Homo sapiens: one gene and its partners. The protein of the gene in region 2 purifies or fractionates together with the protein of the main gene of each other region. This does not show direct contact. Each region holds a gene or a part of one and is shown on either strand. Other genes may lie near its edges.

Region 1 (2,378 bases), on a different chromosome or scaffold from region 2:
ATCTCTGAACTAGTATAATTAGCAGCACATATTTTCTTACTCGTACATAAAAAATTCATGGTATTTTTTTCTTTTTTATTGAGACAGGGTCTCACTCTATCACCCAGGCTGGAGTGAAGTGATGCCATCTCAACTCACTGCAACCTCCACCTGCCGACCTCAAGTGATCCTCCTACCTCAGCCTCCCAAGTAGCCAGGACTATAGGTGTGCACCACTGTGCCTGGCTAAGTTTTGTAATTCTTTCTTTCTTTCTTTATTGGAGACGGAGTCCTGCACTGTCACCGGGGCTGGAATGCAGTGGCACGATCTTGGCTCACTGCAACCTCGGCCTCCCGGGTTCAGGCGATTCTCCTGCCTCAGCCTCCCAAGTAGCTGGGATTACAGGCACCCACCACCACGCCCAGCTAATTTTTTGTATTTTTAGTAGAGACGGGGTTTCACCATGTTGGTCAGGCTGGTCTCGAACTCCTGATCTCAGATGATCCACCCTCCTCGACCTCCCAAAGTGCTGGGATTACAGGCGTGGGCCACTGCGCCTGGCCAAGTTTTGTATTTCTTGTAGAGATGGGGTTTCGCCATGTTGCCCACCCAGATCTTGAACTCCTGGGCTCAAGCGAGCTACCTGCCTCAGCCTCCCAAAGTGCTAGGATTACAAACATGAGCTGCCACGCCTGGCCGCATCTTTCAATCAATGGTATTAATCCTGTACAGATGAGAAGACTGATGCTCAGGGTGGTAGAACTGGGATTGGAACCTGGATGAGACAGACTACCAAAAATGGCTGCAGATTCCTCCCCTCCCTGTACACACACACCTCTGCTATGTGGCTTTGGCACTTCTCCTGGCAAGAGCTCGACTTTTTCAATCTCCATTGGCCTCAATCTGGACTGGCTTTACAACTTGCTTTAACCAACAGAAGGTGGCAAAAGCAATGTTGTAGGAGTTCTGGGTGAGTCTAGGCCTCGGGGGACCTTGCATCTTCCACCTCTACCTGCTTGGGGGTGCCCTGGGGCTAGTCTAGCCTTCCAAAGGGTGAGAGGCCACGTGGAGCAGAGATGAGCCATCCCAGGTGAGGGCCCAGACCGGCGCCGTCCAATATGACCTCATGTGGCTATTTACATTTAAATTATTAAACAAGGCCAGGCATGGTGGCTCACGCCTGTAATCCCGGCACTTTGGGAGGCCAGGGTGGGCGGATCACCTGAGGTCAGGAGTTCGAGACCAGCCTGGCCAACATGGCAAAACCCCATGTCTAATAAAAAAAATACAAAAATTAGCCAGGTGTGGTGGCACGTGCCTGTAATCCCAGCTACTGGGGACGCTGAGACAGGAGAATCACTTGAACCCAGGAGGCAAAGGTTGCAGTGAGCTGAGATTGCACCACTGCACTCCGGCCTGGGCGATAGAGCAAGACTCCATCTCAAATAAATAAATAAATTTAAGTTAATTAAACAAAATTTAATCCCAAAGTGTTGGGATTACAGGCGTGAGCCACGGCGTCCAGCCAGCAGCCACCTTTCAAGTGCTCAGTAGCTCTGCCAGGCTAGTGGCTACTGTGTTGGACAGCAGAAACCTAGAACATTTCCATCGCTGCAGAAAGTTCTGTTGGACAGTGCTGCAGAGGTAAGCAGCCGAGAGCCAGACACGTGGGTGAGGCCATCTAACTGCCTCTTGCCCCAGCTAAGTTACTAAGTGATGACCCCAAAGCAAGGTCAATAGAAGAACTGCTCAGCTGCACTTAACCCCTAAATTGCTTACCCACAGAATTATGCATCAATAAACTGGTTGTTTCGAGCCATTTTGGGGCAAGTAAGTTTGGGGGTGGTTTGTTCTGCAGCAAAGCCCATCTGAAATACAAGGTCTGAGAGCCTCCCTGCCTTTCCTGGACAGAAGTATGGTGCTGCTCAATCCTCCGGAAGCTCATGGTCTTGGCCATTAGCCTGGCCACAGTGTCTCCAACCTTCAGAACCACACTGAAGTCCTAAACCCTCCCCGATGCTTTAGGCACTCCAGGTACCCACTCTCTGGCAGAAGCCACATTGGCTAGGGAGTGCCCACCATCAAGGCAGGACTGATATGACGACAACGTGGGAGGTGGCCAGGGAAATGTGCTCCAAAGGGTGAGCAGCCAGGGAGGGCCCAGAAGAGGCACCAAGGGCTGAGGAAAGCAGGGGCAGGTATGGGCATGAGCCTCAGCATTTCCTGCCCACCAGGGAACTCTTGAGAGCCACCAATGGGCCAACAGATAGAAAGATGGTGCTGCCTTGTGGGCGACTGCGGGCCCGCTGCCCACCTCCCACCTGGACAACTGCAACAGCCCCTCCCTCGTCTCCCAGCTCCCTCAGGGCTGCCTGCAATCCTCTCCCACTCCGTACAC
Region 2 (3,656 bases):
GCCTCCCAAGTAGCTGGGACTACAGGCACATGGCACCACACCCAGCTAATTTTTTATTAGTAGTAGAAATGGGATTTCACCATGTTGGCCAGTCTGGTCTCGAACTCCTAACCTCAGGTGATCCACCCGCCTTGGCCTCCCAAAGTGCTGGGATTACAGGCGTTAGCCACCGTGCCCAGCCATAAATTTATTTTTTAAATGCATGCAGAGCTAAAAATATTCCTTTGTTTGAGTAGCGATCATTGGCAGAAGTGGGTATTTTGCCTCTTAGAACAACAAAAAAGTGTTTGACAGTCTACACCTGACTTTATATAGTCAACATTATAGGTACCCCCAAAAGCCTAAAATTAACAACTCCCGAAACCAACGGAACAACATGGAACTCCACTGTTTCTGGTTTCTCCGCCAATGCACCAGATAGCAACCCGGGGATTCTCAGTAAGAACTTCTACCCCAAAAAAAGAGGTCCAAAACAAATAAACAAACCCAAAAAGACAAGGGCAAAAGAAAGGATGTCCCCTCTTCACCACCTGGGCTCAAATGAGGGAATTCACTGGATGATGCCACCGTGAAGTCATCTTTGTTAGAATAAGGGTCTATCAAGTTGAATGATGAAAACAGTATACATTAAAAAAAGAATTCGAATAAGGGTCTAAATCACATACAATTGGTGATTTGGGTAAAGGGGGATTAGGAGAAAATGAAGCCAGTGAAGGAGAGGGATTGTGATTGGGAAATTTCTACCTTATTTACTCATGCAACAAACATGTATAAAATGCCTGCTCTGAAACATACCATGTAGTAGGACTAGGGATATTGAGACAGACGACCCAGCTTTCACACCAAGAGCTTATAGTTCAGCAGGGAATGCTGACAGGTAATTGGTTCCATGACGTCCATGCCCAGGTGCTATGGGAGGTCAGTGAAAGAAGGGAGGAGAGAAGGGGGAGTGGTGACCCCTCACATTCTAAGAAAACAGATTCTCTAGCTCATACCAGAAACAGCTGCTTGACATAGCCATTGATGGAAGAAATGTGAGTCTGATGAGGTCTTCAAGTGTGCTCTTACCTCCACAGTGATGAAAACCTCCTCCAAATGATTTGCAAAGTTTTCCATCTCAATTATCTGCTTTTCCAATTTGTACATGTTTTTGTGAATTTCATCCTATCCAACAGAGGATCACAAAGAAGGTATTAATGTTACATCTTCTCTCACTCTTGTAGAAGGCGTTTTAGATTTATTCCCTGCGTATGTACTTGAGATACCAAAGCAATATCAAGACAGAGAAGAACCAAGGACACCTATTTACCTTGGCACTTTCCAGTGCTTCATTGAGTGGGATCACTTCATGCTCCTTATGTTCATCAAAAACCTTCTGAAAAGCTCTTATTGGAGTCTTACAAGTGACACAGAAGACATCAGCAGCTTCTTCTTCATCCTCTTCCTCGGGGATGACATAGCATTCATACTCCTCGCTGGCACGGCCGTGTGTGTACCTATAGGCTTCCCGCAAGTCCTGGCACTGGCCTGCTGAGCCCCACCCTCCGAAGCCCAGGTCCTCGGCCTCCGCTGCCTCTCCACTAAGTCTCCAGTCTCTCTGCTCCCTGGCTGGGTCTCTCCTCTTCATCATATAAGGAGGATATTCTGAAACCCCTGTTCTGGGTATGTTTTCATCAACAAACTCATCCCCTAATTCATGATCATCTTCAAGTCCATATAAGTGGACAAGTTCATCCACTTCCTCTTGAAGGTCTCTTTGAGCCTTACCATCCCCTGCTCCTCTTGACTCATTGGCCATTTCAGCTTGGACTACTTTCCTCATCCTAGTGTTCTCTTCTGGAAAGAGGTGCAGTCTGTCTTCAGAGTCATACAGGTCCATGTGGTAAAAGTGGAAATCCTTGGGAGTAGACCTGTCCAGCCCCAGTTCCTCCCCCGATTCCTCCTCCATTGTAACTCTGGAAGTCCTCAGAAGCACCTTTATATAAGAAAGATCCTTCCTGGACACTTAATAGTGAATATCTGGGCCCTGGAACACAAAAGGAGGAGGAAAATCATTTCTGGAGAAGGGCATTGCAGTAGATGATCATTAGATTGGGCTCTACTCATATAAAACTTTAAAAAAATTATCTGTGTAGTTCAGTCGTGGTTTCACTTTGAACCATCTTTAAAAAATTTGTTTTCTATGGGAGGATGGGCTTTCTAAGGTTAAAAGAGACAAAAGAAATTACAAAAGAAATGTCTAATAGATATGTCCAACAAAATACTTCCCTCATACATTAAAAAAAAAACTTAAAAGGCAAAATAATGGGAAGCATCTCAGGCAATTATTATTATTATTATTATTAATTTATTTTTGAGATGGAGTCTCACTCTGTCACCCAGGCTAGAGTGCAGTGGCATGATCTCGGCTGACTGCAGCCTTTGCCTCCAGGGTGCAAGCAATTCTTGTGCCTCCACCTCCCAACTAGCTGGGATTACAGGTATGTGCCACCACACCCAGCTTATTTTTGTATTTTTGGTAGAGACGGGTTTTCACTATGTTGGAACTCCTGACCTCAGGTGATTCACCCACCTCAGCCTCCCAAAGTGCTGGAATTACAGGCATGAACCACTGCGCCCAGTCTATTATTTTTAAATTGTATAAATTAATTGAAAAAGTGGCATCTCAATAGATGAATGTGCACAGACAATTCACAAAACAATTACTTTTGTATATGATAGCACCTGCACAAAAACATTTGAAAAAAACTGTACTTAAAAGTAACAGAACAGGCCTGGCGTGGTGGCTCATGCCCATAATCCCAGTACTTTGGGAGGCTGAGGCAGATGGATTGCTTGAGCTCAGGAGTTCGAGATCGTCCTGGGCAACATGGCAAGACCCTGTCTCTACCAAAAATACAAAAAAAAAAAAAAATGCCAGGCATAGTGGTGTGCACGTGTGGTCCCAGCTACTTGGGAGGCTGAGGTGGGAGGATCACTTGAGCCTTGAGGGGTGGTGGTTGCAGTGAGCCTAAATCACACCACTGCGCTCCAGCCTGGGTGACAGAGCAGGACCCTGTCTCAAAAAAAAAAAAAAAAAAAAAAAGTGACAGAACAAATAAGTAGATGCTGTTTTGCCTTTTCAGTTAGAAAATATTTAAAAATATCAAAAGTGATACCCGCAGCTGGATAAGGGGACAGTGAAGTGAGCACTCTCATATGCTGCCGGCTAGAATGTAAACTGGCCCCACTTTTCTGAAGAGCAAGCTTGGCAACCTGGGTCAGGAACCTTAAAGATGTTCACACTTTCAGCAGGGTGTGGTGACTCATGCCTGTAATCCCAGCACTTTGGGAGGGCAAGGCAGGAGGATTGCTTGAGGCCAGGAGTTTGAGACCAGCCTAGGCAACACAGTGAAACCCCATGTCTACAAAAAATTTAAGCATTTGCCAGGTGTGGTGGTGCATGCCTGTAGTCCCAGCTACTAGGGAGGCTGAGGCAGTGAGCCATGATTGCGCCAGTGTACTCCAGCCTGGGCGACAGAGCAAGACTCTGTCTAAAAAAAAAAAAAAAGTGTTCATACTCTCTAGCCTGTTCATACTCTCTCTAACCTAGTAATCCTCTTCTGGAACCTTGAGGAAAAATCCCAAATACAAGGAAAAAAATTATTTTATGTAAA
Region 3 (3,656 bases), on a different chromosome or scaffold from region 2:
GGATTAGAGACGTGAGCCACTGCGCCCGGCCTCATCCATAATTCTTGATAAGTAGACAAGTCCATCAAAACAGCTGTACAGTCCTCATTGTTTAAATTTTTAAGTAGATGTTCAAAATTGGGAACTTTAAAAAAAGTTACGTGAATAAAGTACAGCTTTTATGTTTTGTTGTTAGCCCAGGCTGGAGTACAGTGGCGCCATCTTGGCTCACTGCAACTGCCACCTCCCGGGTCCCGGTTCAAGCAATTCTCCTGCCTCAGCCTCCTGAGTAGCTGGGATTACAAGAACATACCACCATGCCCAGCTGATTTTTGTATTTTTATTAGAGATGGGGTTTCACCATGTTGGCTAGGCTGGTCTTGAACTCTTGACCTCGTGATCTTCCCGACTCAGCCTCCAAAAGTGTTGGGATTACAGGTGTGAGCCACCGTGCCCGGCCAGCATTTATGTTTTAGTATGAAATTTAAATGCTAAAAAGTTGCTTGACAAATTCAACATCCATTCCTAATAAAAAGAGTAACAGACAGAACAAAGATTACTTAAACCCAAAAGCTAACATCATATGTCACAAACACTAGATCCTGTATTTTCTGCTATTGTGATACCGCATGACTGACTACAGCTGTTCTGACACAGATCTGGCTACTGAGCTAAGAAATGAAACCACCTCAGAAGCAGAAGCCCTGGGAAAGAAGAGGCAGATGATTACTATGTACTAAGATCACAGCCATAAACTAAACCTGGGCTGCTACAAGAGCTGAACAAATAACAGGAAAGGGGCCAGATACAAGAAAATTGTACAACTTAGCAACTTACGGGACAGCAATGATCACTTAGAAAAGATAATGAAAAGAATTAATGAAAATAATAAACATCTGGGAATTATCTAAAATGCAATGCATGTGGCCTATACAAAGAAAACAGGCCGGGTGCAGTGGCTCACACCTGTAATCCCAGCACTTTGGGAGGCCAAAGGCAGGAGGACTGCTTGAGTCCAGGAGTTCAAGAGCAGCCTGGACAACATAGTGAGAACCTGTCTCTACAAAAAATACCAAAAAGAAAAAAATTTAGCAAGGCATGTTGGTAATGCCTGTAGTCCCAGCTACTCAGGAGGCTAAGGTGGGAGAATGGCTTGAGCCTGGGAGATCAAAGCTGCAGTGAGCCATGATTGCACCACTGCACTCTAGCCTGGGCAATGAACAGAATGAGATCCTGTCTCAAAAAAAAAAAAAAAAGTAATATTCCTTCCCAACTGGTTTAATGACACTTCAGATACAATCCCAAAAAGACTGTTTTAGAAGTAAAATGGTTCAGCTCATCTAGAAGGAAGGTCCAGACTGACGAGGTTTGGGGGAACTGGTCCCCAGGGAGGAACAACTGCTGGAGAACTCACTAAAGAAAATAACGGGAGCAGCTAGGCGCAGTGGCTCACACCTGTAATCCCAGCACTTTGGGAGGCCGAGGTAGGTGGATCATCTGAGGTCAGGAGTTTGAGATGAGCCTGGCTAATGTGGTGAAAATTTTGTACTTTTGTACTAAAAATGCAAAAATTAGCTGGGTGTGGTGGCGGCGTCTCTAATCCCAGCTACTAGGGAGGCTGAGGCAGGAGAATCGCTTGAACCCGGGAGGCAGAGGTTGCAGTGAGCCGAGATTGCACCACTGCACTCTAGCCTAGGTGACAAGAACAAAACTCGGTCTCAAAAAAAAAAAAAAAAAAAAAAAATTAGCTGGGTGTGGTGTGCGCGCCTGTAATCCCAGCTACTTGGGAGGCTGAGGCAGATAACTGCTTGAACCCGGGAGGTGGAGATTGCAGTGGGCAGAGATCACGCCACTGCATTCCAGCTTGGTGACAGCGCGAGACTCTGTCTCAAAAAAAATAAAAATAAAAAAAAAAAAGAAAATGCAACCTTAAGGAAAAAGACATAAGAAAACCAATTTCTTTTCTCATCCAAAGTTATAATAAAACGTTATTCGTGGACCTTAAAGTTGCAGTTTCTGCCAGGCATGGTGGCTCACACCTATAATCCCAGCACTTTGGGAGGCTAAGGCAGGCAGATCACGGGAGGTCAGGAGTTCAAGACCAGCCTGGCCAACATGGTGAAACCCCGTCTCTAATAAAAATACAAAAATTAGCCAGGTGCGGCCGGACGCGGTGGCTCATGCCTGTAATCCCAGCACTTTGGGAGGCCATGGCGGGCGGATCACGAGGTCAGGAGATTGAGACCATCCTGGCTAACACGGTGAAACCCCATCTCTACTAAAAATACAAAAAATTAGCCGGGCGTGGTGGCGGGCGCCTGTAGTTCCAGCTACTTGGGAGGCTGAGGCAGGAGGATGGCATGAACCCGGGAGGTGGATCTTGCAGTGAGCTGATATTGCGCCACTGCACTCCAGCCTGGGTGACAGAGCGAGACTCCGTCTCAAAAAAAAAAAAAAAAAAATTAGCCAGGCGCAGTGAGGCATGCCTGCAATCCCAGCTACTCGGGAGGTTGAAGCAGGAGAATCACTTGAACCTGGGAGGCGGAGGTTGCAGTGAGCCAAGCATGTGCCACTGCACTCCAGTCTGGGTGACAGAGCAAGGCTCTGTCTCAAAAAAAAAAAAAAAAAAAAAGAAAAAAAAAAAGTCGCAGTTTCCAAGAACCTACAGACATTAAATGAGACTTGCTGTACATCAAAATACTGACACTGGGCACTTTGAGGGCACAGTTGCCAGTGCCCACTCCAACTGGGAGTCCAACAATTAAATTCCATTTAATTCCTGTTAGGGGACAGGAAGCCTTCTGTCCCCAGCTCTCCAAGTGCAACTGGGCACTGAGGTTAGGAATGTTTCTATACTGTCTATAGATTCACTGAGGCATGTGACAATCATTTTCAAAATGGAAAGATAAAGGTTTAAAAGAAACAAAGAACAGGAAAGTAGGATACACTGTTTCCCTCAAAAATCAAGAGTCACTCGTGACTCTCCACCATTTTCAAACCCTGTTTTCAAACAGACAGGTGCAGAGTGATACTGATTTACTCACAGGCAGTTCCTCAACCCCAGGGTGCTGGCACAGCTGAGATGAGCAGGATCCCCTGGACTACCTGTAACAGGAACAGGGGAAAATAAATGAGTAGTAAATCAGGGATTTATACTGATACCTTTTTTTGTTGTTGGTTTTTGGAGTTTCGCTCTTGCGCCCAGGCTAGAGTGCAATGGCGTGATCTCGGCTCACTGCAACCTCCACCTCCTGGGTTTAATTGATTCTCCTGCCTCAGCCTCCTGAGTAGCTGGAATTACAGGTGCCCACCACCATGCCCAGCTAATTTTTTTTTTTTAGTAGAGACAGGGTTTCATTCACCATGTTGGCCAGGCTGGTCTCAAACTGCCGACCTCAGGTGATCCGCCCGCCTTGGCCTCCCAAAGTGCTGGGATTACAGGCATGAGCCACCGTGCTCAGCCTTTTGTTCATTTTGATTTATTTGACTTTGCCCAGGCTGGAATGCAGTGGTACAGTCACGGCTCCCTGCAGCCTTGAACTCCTGGGCTCAAGGGATCCTTTTGCCTCAGCCTCCCAAGTAGCTGGGACTACAGGTGTGCACCATCAGGCCAGGCTAATTTTTGTAAAGACGGGGTTTCGTTTTGTTGCCTAGGCTGGTCTCCAACTTTTGGCCTC

Evidence for each region.
Region 1: the proteins of FSD2 (region 2) and SLC27A4 purify together in Homo sapiens (co-immunoprecipitation; 2 studies listed by BioGRID and IntAct, with this or other methods). This does not show direct contact.
Region 3: the proteins of FSD2 (region 2) and LETM1 purify together in Homo sapiens (co-immunoprecipitation; 2 studies listed by BioGRID and IntAct, with this or other methods). This does not show direct contact.

The regions. Positions count from the first base shown.
Region 1 is NC_000009.12:128,357,507-128,359,884, reverse strand, and holds part of SLC27A4 (long-chain fatty acid transport protein 4), read right to left. Parts: intron 1-2,378. UniProt on the Homo sapiens protein: Mediates the levels of long-chain fatty acids (LCFA) in the cell by facilitating their transport across cell membranes. Appears to be the principal fatty acid transporter in small intestinal enterocytes.
Region 2 is NC_000015.10:82,785,443-82,789,098, forward strand, and holds part of FSD2 (fibronectin type III and SPRY domain-containing protein 2), read right to left. Parts: intron 2,027-3,656; 5' UTR 1,949-2,026; coding exon 1,310-1,948; intron 1,165-1,309; coding exon 1,069-1,164; intron 1-1,068.
Region 3 is NC_000004.12:1,846,126-1,849,781, forward strand, and holds part of LETM1 (mitochondrial proton/calcium exchanger protein precursor), read right to left. Parts: intron 3,085-3,656; coding exon 3,024-3,084; intron 1-3,023. UniProt on the Homo sapiens protein: Plays an important role in maintenance of mitochondrial morphology and in mediating either calcium or potassium/proton antiport. Mediates proton-dependent calcium efflux from mitochondrion.